Regions from separate parts of the Homo sapiens genome. Here region 1 is linked to region 2. Evidence: fine-mapped expression QTL. Tissue or cell type: whole blood. Region 2 holds a variant in brackets; the other region holds the start of a gene. All regions are shown on one strand. Distances are from middle to middle.

Region 1 (5,148 bases), 170 kb before region 2:
AAGAATATACTCTCAGATATTGTATGAGAATATACTGCAGCATTGTATGAGAGGCAAAAAACTAGAAGCCTTTGGAATATTCATCATGGGAGAATGGCTGGGCACATTAACGTACATTCACAGTAGGGAATATTCTGCAGCCATCACGTAAGTTAAGATCTAGATGTATTGATCTGAAGGGACATCTACAAAATATATATATTTTTTGAGCCGGAGTCTTGCTCTGTCGCCCAGGCTGGAGTGCAATGATGTGATCTTGGCTCACTGCAACCTCTGCCTCCCGGGTGCAAGTGATTCTCCTGCCTCGGTCTCCCACGTAGCTGGGATTACAGGCGCCCACCACCGCTCCCAGCTAATTTTTGTATTTTTAGTAGAGACAGGGTTTCGCCATGTCGGCCAAGCTGGTTTTGAACTCCTGACCTCAGGTGATCTGCCTGCCTCAGCCTCCCAAAGTGCTAGGATTACAGGTGTGAGCCACCGCACCCAGCCTACAAAATATTTTTTAATGAAAGAAGCAACTAACTAAAACTTTGTATAGTAGTTATGTTTTTATATTTTATATTCATATATGCAGTGATGCTCAATGGGAATTTTGCAAATCCAGGGGGCATGTGGCAATGGCTGAAGATATTTTTGGTTATCATGTCAGGGAGGTGCTAATGACATAGGGTTAAATCCTACAATGCACAACCTCCCTCAAAGAATTATCAACCCAAGATGTCAGTTGTGCTGAGCTTGAGAAACTCTGTCATAGGGAAAGGAAAAAAAGGATAAGCACCAAACTGCTAGCTTGTTCCTTATATATCTGTGCTGTTCAACTTATAATGTACATTTATTTTGACAACTGAAAATTATCCTATAAAAATAAGTTTATTGTGCTGGCAAAGACAATGATAGAGCAGAGGTGGCAGACTGTTCCCCAAGCCAACTGTTTCCAAAGGAGACCTGAGGGACTGGGTGTGAGTTGACAGTGGTGGGAGCTGGAAGCAGCAAGGGATGCGGGGACATCTGGGGAGCCTGGACCTGACCTTGGAGCTCACTCACACAATCTAAATAATCCCAGAGTGAGGCTGAGGTTTTCCTGAGTTGGATGAGGGCCTGCGAAAATTTCCTATTATTAGGCAAGCCTACTATGAGAGTGAGAAGCCTAAACTCAATTTCCATTTTATAGCCTGGAGTAAACCACTTCTGGTCAGGCAGCAGGGAATCATAACATATCAGAGCTGAATACCTCACTGGTTTGCTGAGGGGCAAGTTAGTAGGTGTTCCTCAGAAAGGATTTTGTGGTCAATTAAGACAGGGAAACTCTGGCTTAAACTGCAGGTAAATTAAATAAGAGGTCTTTACTGCAAGCCTAATCAGAGCCTTTATTATGCTAGTGTCCATCTCCAAAAGGGTGGTCATCAAATGCAGGCCCTCCCTGTCTTGACCAAGTCCTTTTTCTTGAGATCATGTCTTGAGACTTGGATGCCATGCAATACACTTTGGGAAATACTAACCTAGTTGAACGACAGTTTTACTGATGTAGAAATGGCGGCCCAAAGGATAAAAAGTAGCTGAACTAGCTGGTGGGGCTACTTTCCAGACCAATGCTTTTTTCTCCTGCCTAAGACCTTAACCACAGTTGCAAATTAACTACAGATCCTCAGAATTTTCGCCCAATTCAACTTGGAGGGGTTGCAGTGGAGGTGAGGGAGAAGGGAGTAACAGTGAAGCCATTCAAAGCAAAAACCACCTTTAAAGAAATTTTGGCCTTAGAATACAGGGTTTTTTTTTTTTTTTTTTTAATTGGTGGAGGGGGCACCCAGGAAGACCAGACGTGCTCCTGTGAAGCAACGCTCCACCACGTCCTTTTGAAAATACCGTAGCCTGCATGAGACAGGCGGGAGCACCTAAGCCTTCAACTCTCCCCATGTTGCCTCCAATTGACCTCACTGGGCCAGGAAAAGCCCTATAAACTGGTTTTGTATACTCTATCCAAGTAGTAAATTTACTAAAATTACTGGATCCTACTATATACCAGACCTCTGCAAGGCATTGAAGATTCAATGATGAGCATTAATTCCCACTCTAAGGGGATTTTTCTATCTGGTAGGGAAACTCAGATACCGCATGCAGCTAGCCTGTCACAGGGCTATACTGACTAAAGCTCACCCTAAGAAATTTGCACATCTTAGCCTATGGGCAACGGGAAGCCATGGACGGAATATGTTTTCCGTTTCAAACAAGGAACTCCAGTCACAGCAGGCTCTAACTCCATTTCCTATTATCAACTCCCCTTCCTGCTCCTCCTCCCTTAGTAGCCTCGAAAAAGAGTGGCCACTTCCTTCACATCACCAGGGCCTTGGTCCTGGTAGGGGGTCCCGCCCCCGGCCCTGTCCTCCTCCCCAGGCCGGGACCTCCGCGCCTCCCACACACAGTACAACTCTAACACGAAACTGGGCCAGGACTGCAGGTAGGTCCCGTCCAATGCGACACGCTCGCGACGGCCCACGCACTGCCAGAACCAGCCCTGCCACTAACCAGCCTAGTAAGGAACGCAGTGATCTTTAGGAGCCCACTTCTAAATTCAAATCATTTGGGGTTCAGTAAGTCTCTTCACAGACGGGGACCTAATAGCTTCCATTAGCAGCCTCCACGTTTGCTGAACACGACTACGGGGCCAGACCCACAGGAACTCCAATGTGGTTCAGCCGCTCAACTCCAGGGACCAAAAAGACTTTCCCACCTCCCAGCGTTATTAAAGGCAACCCCGCCCCCAAGCCTCAGCCACTACGCGGTGCAGAAAGAGGCAGAGCTGGGCATGCGCAATTTCCGCCCCCGCCACAGTCTTGGGAGTGGGCGGGCTCGAGGGCTGGGAGGAAGCCGAAAGCTGACCGAGAGGAGAAAGAAGCCCGCCCCCGGAAGTCCCTCCTGTCTCTGCAGCTTGTTCCCGGAAGTTTTGCTGCTAGTCGCGGACGCAATGGCTTCAAGGTTACTTCGCGGAGCTGGAACGCTGGCCGCGCAGGCCCTGAGGGCTCGCGGCCCCAGTGGCGCGGCCGCGATGCGCTCCATGGCATCTGGAGGTACTCGGGTCTCCGGGCGTGCCAGGGACCAGAGTGTTGCCCTCCCAGGGTGGTCCCAGGGCGGCAAAGCGGCGCGGCTCGTGCAGCTTCTCGAGGTCCCAGTGGCCGCTTTACGGTCCCCAGTGCCTCAGGCTCTGCAGGCATCTCCCTGTAATTCTGGACCGCTGCTCCTGCCGCTCCCCGAACTCACTCCGCTGCGAAAGTATCCTAAACGGAGGTGCCGGGTGACCTTGGGAGGGACCGGGGCTGCCACCGGGATGGGGAGGGGTCCGGCCTCCCTTCAAACCTGCGCCCACCTCAAGCAGAGTGGGTTCTACATGCTTTTAGACAAATGTCGACAAATTTGCCTCGGTGGTTGGAGAAAGAAAAGCTCATAGGCCGGGCGCGGTGGCTCACAACTGTAATCCCAGCACTTTGGGAGGCCGAGGCGGACAGATCCCCTGAGGTCAGGAGCTCAAGACCAGCCTGGCCAACATGGTAAAACCCCGTTTCTACTAAAAATACAAAAATTAGCCGGGCGTGGTGGCGCGCGCCTGTAGTCCCAGCTACTCGGGAGGCTGAGGCAGGAGAATCGCTTAAACCCGGGAGGCGGAGGTTCCCGTGAGCCAACATCGCGCCATTGCACTCCAGCCTGGGCAACAAGAGCAAAACTCCGTCTCAAAAAAGAAAAAAAAAGCTCCCCCGAGTGCTGCCGCTTGTGTGGATGGGTACTTGGTGGTTCTTAGGGGACCATGGATATGAGTAGCCTTTAGGAGCTTGTGAGCCCGCTAAAACTTATACAGAAGTTTCGGGGCACCATTTTCCTTGATCATTTCTGTTTGTAGTTTTTCTATCAGTCATTTCAGTCAGCGTCATAATTCACGTTATCTTCCTTTAGGTGGTGTTCCCACTGATGAAGAGCAGGCGACTGGGTTGGAGAGGGAGATCATGCTGGCTGCAAAGAAGGGACTGGTAAGGAGAAACTCCCTTCTGTGTCTTCTGTGTAACTTATGGCCTTGGATGTGTTCATAGTGGTCTCCTCTCTGGGAGTATTTGATACAGGAAACTTGGCTTGTAGGAACAGTCCCCTGAGCTTCTGGAAGGTAGGGCTTATTTGGCCTAATGGTTCAATTCTTGTTTTTTTTGTTTTGTTTTGTTTTTTGTTTTTTCTTCAGGACCCATACAATGTACTGGCCCCAAAGGGAGCTTCAGGCACCAGGGAAGACCCTAATTTAGTCCCCTCCATCTCCAACAAGAGAATAGTAGGCTGCATCTGTAAGTACCTCACCTCTATTTTTTATCCACTTGCTTAATATATCCTACAATAGTGTGTAAGCTGCCTCAAATCTTCAGTGTGTGAGTGCATGTTGGTAAGTTTGTCTAAGGGTCTTGACACTCTCAAGCCTCATTATGCCTGATAGTTCATCCTTACTGGAAAGAAGCGCAGCACAGCGGTAAGACTGGCTCACTGGGAGTGCGGCATGAAGGAGTACCCACCCAGCAAATATTTATTGTTATACTGCTTCTATGCCAGGCATCATTTTAGACACTAGGGATACATACCAGAACGGACCCTGCTTTGCGTTCTACATAGGCAAGGGAATTGTTAGAATTTACAGTGACCTTGATACAAGGTCAGTTTACTCATAGGTGAACTCAGAGCCTCAATTTCTTCATCTGAAGAATGGGAGGAGGGCTTGAACTGATCTCTTAAGATATCAACCATAGTCTTACTTGTGTATCAGAGATGTCTGAGGAAAAGAAATTCATGTTGAAAGTCTCCCTTTCTAGGTTGGATGACCATAAACCACCTTTTTTCCCTTTTAGGTGAAGAGGACAATACCAGCGTCGTCTGGTTTTGGCTGCACAAAGGCGAGGCCCAGCGATGCCCCCGCTGTGGAGCCCATTACAAGCTGGTGCCCCAGCAGCTGGCACACTGAGCACCTGCACTAAATTACTCAAAATGTGCTGTAAAGTTTCTTCTTTCCAGTAAAGACTAGCCATTGCATTGGCTCCTTCTCCCATAGATGGCTGGTCTTATTTCTTACCCGTATTCTTTGGTAGGCATGGAATATGCTTATTTTGGGAAAAGCTGTCTGTTAAT
Region 2 (5,148 bases):
ATTCATTGAAAACACGTAAAAAAGACTAAACAACGGGGAAGCAATGAAGACAGATTTTTTAAAAATACAAATATTTTTGTATTTCAAAATACAAATAATCTATAAAAATAGATTATTTTAAAAAAGAAAGTCAAACTGTACTCCTAAAACAATGTATGTAAAATCCAGCATATCTAGAGTTATATAGCTTTTTTTTTGATACAGAAATAGACATCAACCTAATTTTTAAAAATGCACTGAACATTCTAGAGTTAGAATCCCATCCCATACTGTTAGTAACTCTCAAAGCTACTTCTCTAGGGTATTTTTCTTAATTCTTATTTTCACCCATATTAACAAAAATTTATCTGAATTCTGAAATGTACTTATTTCTGTCATGAGTGATAACCATGAATTCCTCACCTGACATACTCTCAACAAATCATTTATTATTAAATGGCCAATTCTGTTTATTTTATAATTACATTTTTTTTCCACGTGGGAGTTGTGTCCACTGAAAACATCTATGAGGGCAAAGGTGGTAAGTTGTTGAATTTAACAGTGCTTGACTTTCCTAAGAGCTTTTAGATATACAATTAAAAACATTTAGGTCTGGCAGAAATACATCCATTCAAAATCTTACTGAATGCAAAATAAGCTCCACACAGAATATTTTAATTAAAAGCTTAGTAACCTTTAGTCCCTTGACTTTGAATGACTCATGAAAATATAAATGTGAGCACTCAGATTAGGACATGATCTCCTGATTTTATCTTCCTTTTCAGAAATGTTAGACCCTGACTGCTATTTATGATTGTAGGAACAATCAGAGGTATCTAACTCAGGACACTCAGCTGGGGTCTGTGCAATGATATAACCATCTGTTTAAGCAGGTTTCTAACAAAGCAATTCTAAACGTGCTAAAGGCATTCTTCTGAAGTTGCTTTTTAGGTTAGGAGGGTTGGGTTTTATCAAAAAACTATGAGCCTATGAACATCAATATTCTATAAACTATTCTCGAAAGCTCAGTTTTTAAGGTATGAAACTGGTAAACTGTAACTCTGAGTAAACTTAATTCTTTGGTTTCATAAAGACAAGAAAGGACTGACTTATTCAGAAAAACCCCACTGCCATGAATCCCCATAAAGTCCTTACCTCATAGTCTGTTGTGATCTGGATGGCTCCATCATGAATCCCCTCTAATTTTTTTGCAGTAAGTTTGACTCTGAAGACTGCAAAATAGCCTGAAGCTAATGTTACCTGTAGATAGTAGAAATGGTATCATTCATTAGCCTTGTTAGTTGAAGTTTCCTATTAAAATGGACATGAAGGGTGTAGCGATAAAATGACTAACAAATCCTAACATATACCAGTATGACACTGAATTACCATATCACTGTGTACAAATATCTCAAAATAGTGTCCATCCCTTGATATTTCTCTACTACACTTGTTCCATGGGCCACTGAAAAAGCTGGTTCCTGAAAGAGGGAGGGGTGTGGTCCTCTTGCTAATAAAGCTCCTCACTCTTTACCCATGGACCTGTATGGCCAAAGGGGCTGGAGCAGAGGGACACAGCCTTCCACCAACCTTTCAGGCACACTGGAGCCACAATTGTATACACAGCTGGCTCTGCTTCAAGCTGTGGATGTCACTCTGTAATGTTAATATTCATATCTTCAGGGCAGCTGAGGTCAGATATAACAAAACACCAGACCTATGGCATTCCACGGAAACGTGTTTGTCAACACTCTCTGTGTATAAGGACACTTGCTTTTCCTTTTGTAAAACTGCCCCAAGAAATTCTATTCTAACCTGCAGATGAGATTATCTGATGCTCCTTCTCACAGATTGTGATTCTAATTCTTTTCCCAGTAGGTATAAACTCCAAGTTCCCCTTTCAGTACTGGTGAGTGCTGAAACTAATAAATTTGTTTTCTCTTGTTTAGCGCTCTCTGACAACCAACTGTAACATGTTTATTAGACAGGTAAAAATATGTGGGCAGACTCACAGTGATCAAACAATGTTTGCCTCACTGATACTGAGGCAGTATCTGGACAGACGTATTATTGCATAATTGAAAATATTTTCTACCAATGTTCAGGGCCATCTCTTTTTCCCAGTAAACTCAATGAACACAAGGTTAGTTTAGTACCCATGGGAATCTCTCCTGTAATGACACTTGTGTTACAAAAAGATAATTAAAAATTTGTGTGTTATAGAACTTTTTATGACAAGGCAGAATTAAACCCCTTTGGGTTTCAGTGCCCTCATCATAAAAATAGGGGGTTGAATTACATTACCTATAAGGTCCTTTTAATAGCAAGTAACCAACACTATTATGAACTGCATAAAAATAATAGTGATACATGTAGCATAGCAATGATCTTCCACTTGCAGTTTAGACATCCATCTTACTTTAAG[G/A]AGACAATAGAAAGTTTACTTACCGATGATTGATCTGATAAAGAGGATTTTTCAAACTCTGGCAGGCTTGAAATTATTGTAGTTCTATTGCCTCTTTCCACAGCTACAAGTTCTATTGATAAACCGTCTCCTATGATATGCCAACTTTTTATAGCCAACTTTAAAAAAAGATATGAAAATGATTATCACAACACAAGCATAAAATCCTTAAATGTGATTTAGAATAAAAACAGGTTTTTACCTCAATTGGATTGCTGTTTATAATTGCAAATAAAATATTACTTGCTTCTGTAGCACTCAGTACTCCAAAATCTATGAAACGTTCCTCTATTTTGGGGGGCAATACAAAGTACTGGAAAGATATAAAAGAACCAGATTAAAAAAAAGTCACATTGATCTAACAATATTATGAAGAGAAAGTAACTATATTAAAGATGTATTAAAGTTCCCCCCAAAATTAGCTGGGCATGGTGGTGTGCACCTATAATCCCAGCTACTCGGAAGGCTGAGCTCAGGCAGGAGAATCGCTTGAACCCGCAAGCCAAGATTGCACCACTGCACTCCAGCTTGGGAAACACAGCGAGACTCCATCTAAAAAAAAAAAAAATTACAGTTCTATGCTTTCCTATGCTTTTGTATATATGCATAAAACCACACATTTATACGACATAGTTGAGGGCTTTGTATGACGAAAGTCTTTTGAGTAATCAGAAATGAAAACAGCCATGGCTTCTGCTGAGTTGCTATTCTTCCTCTGAGGGCACATGAAAGAGGCAGGAAGCTAAACTACTAAGAGAGGTTTAGTGGAACCCTAGGGGATCGGGCAAAAAGCATGTGGTCTCAGCAAGCATCACCAATGATCACTGAAACAAAATAACTGAAGCAGGAGCGAGACATTACTGAAGGTCCCTCCAGCTCTAAAATTCTAATCGATGCCAACTATTTAAAGGGCTACATTTCTAGATGTCCTAGCTTTCTTTTTATCTTTCCTAACAGTTTTCTCTCTTATCTAAGCTTCTTTCATTGATCACTCTCAAGATAGCTTTGTTTGGAATTTTTCCCCCTGCTTATTTTCTGTACCAGGAGTACCTTCATTGTTTCCTTCTGTGTCATATATAATCTTCCAACTTTGCGTCTTTACTACCTTATTTTCTTCTTTACTATCTGATTCTCTTCTTTGTCCCGATATTTCTTGGTTTTGATCATCTCTTCCCTACGTATATCCCTCTTCACCTTCCTTGTATTATTCTTTTTCTACCTATCATTTTTCTATTTAGTTCTTTTCTATATTCCCCATTATTACAATAGTTTAAAAGCATATCCAAGAGAAAGCAGAATGTGGAAAAGATCTAAGTAGAGACTGTAACTAGAGAAGTCAACTGTATCACAAGAGAGAGCTGCCAGAAAAGGTAAAAACTAGTTACCTGGAAAGGTAAAAACTGACTAGGAGAATTAGATCAATTTGCAGAGCACAAATAATGGCAAACCGTATGTAACACGACTGCCTAATAAGATCTGAAAACATTAAAGGTGGGCAGGGAGTTTAAATGTTAAAGATGGATAATATACTTACATCTAAAAAGCCTGTGTATACCCGCACGGGTAAATGAAATTTAGAAGCATTGGTAATAAGTAAAATGTTGTTATCAATGTGCATGGATGATGTGGAAGGCATAAAAAGCAGGGTAAAAATGTATCCTGATTCATTAGGAAGAATTAAGACTGGTTTGCTGAAGTTGTGAACCTGAGAAATGACAGAAGAGAAAAAAAACAAAGTGTCAGCATCACCTAGTTGGTAGACCAGGAAAATTAAAAGTATGAGGGCTCCTGGACATACTTTAAACATTGTTTTGGCTTCTTCTGGTAGCAACACATCGTGAATGAGGATCGCAAAACTGAAAGTGTTAGTAAGGTAAATTGGCCTTTCCACAGGATCAGCAGGGCTGTCTCGGATGTGAAATAATGTTGCAGCATGATCAAATCCCAAATAACTATTAAAAAAAACAACAAGAACAAAATAAATCATTTTTATTTCCATGTGTTAATTTAAAATCCAAGTTCTTCTGTTGTAAGTAATAATTTACATTTAGCATTAGGGATTGTATTAAAGATTTAGAACTATAATATTTTAGTGATTGACTATATGATTTAAAACAAAATTTAGCTTGCAAAATACTGAAATTAATACAAACAACCATTCTCTAATGAATTATATGAATCATACAATTAGAATCAAAGACATATCAACAAAAAAAGCTTTACTTTGAAAAAAATCATGCTTATCACTGAATTACAAGGAGCTTTGCTAAAATGAATCTTTGCCAAGTTGAGTATTAAACTACTATTGGTTAAAGTACAATAGAAAATGAACATGTCACTTCCCATTTATAAAAAGTTGTAATTCTAGAAGTGTTTATGAATTTATAAAGGAATATAAAGAATTCTGTTTCGAGTGTCAAAATACTTTAATAATAGGCCACAATCACTTACATATTACAAACAAATGTCAGAAAGGAAATGGTTCAAATGATTTAAATAATATTTAAAAAATCAGATTTTTGAATCATTAAGTCTTCATTTAAGCCCAAATCCTATCATCCCACTTACCCTTTTCTTCTAAAAAAGTAAAATATAAACAAAATATAGGAGGTTTTCTCTTTTATAGTTGGGGCTGTTCTTTCAAAAAATAATTCCATCAAGTTTATGTGAACGTGGCTAGTATTTCTGCAGGTCATTTAGCAGGA

The links. PIP is the estimated chance that this variant, and not a neighbour inherited with it, causes the effect.
Region 1: COX5B starts here. The variant in region 2 is fine-mapped to the expression of COX5B in whole blood (INTERVAL, PIP above 0.99).

Annotation. Positions count from the first base shown.
Region 1 is chr2:97,643,125-97,648,272 of GRCh38, forward strand. COX5B (cytochrome c oxidase subunit 5B) reads left to right here and starts at 2,938. Exons shown (of 4, transcript NM_001862.3): 1 at 2,938-3,065; 2 at 3,943-4,016; 3 at 4,220-4,319; 4 at 4,872-5,148. The coding sequence starts at 2,963. The coding sequence ends at 4,984. RefSeq lists enhancers at 1,896-2,830, 2,633-2,682, 2,863-3,042.
Region 2 is chr2:97,809,994-97,815,141 of GRCh38, forward strand. It overlaps TMEM131 (transmembrane protein 131), which reads right to left. Exons shown (of 41, transcript NM_015348.2): 14 at 4,242-4,395; 15 at 3,978-4,148; 16 at 2,646-2,756; 17 at 2,428-2,562; 18 at 1,135-1,239. Among named protein-coding and RNA genes, the nearest start is that of ZAP70, 99 kb to the left of the region's middle. The variant G/A (reference allele first, on the strand shown) is at 2,405.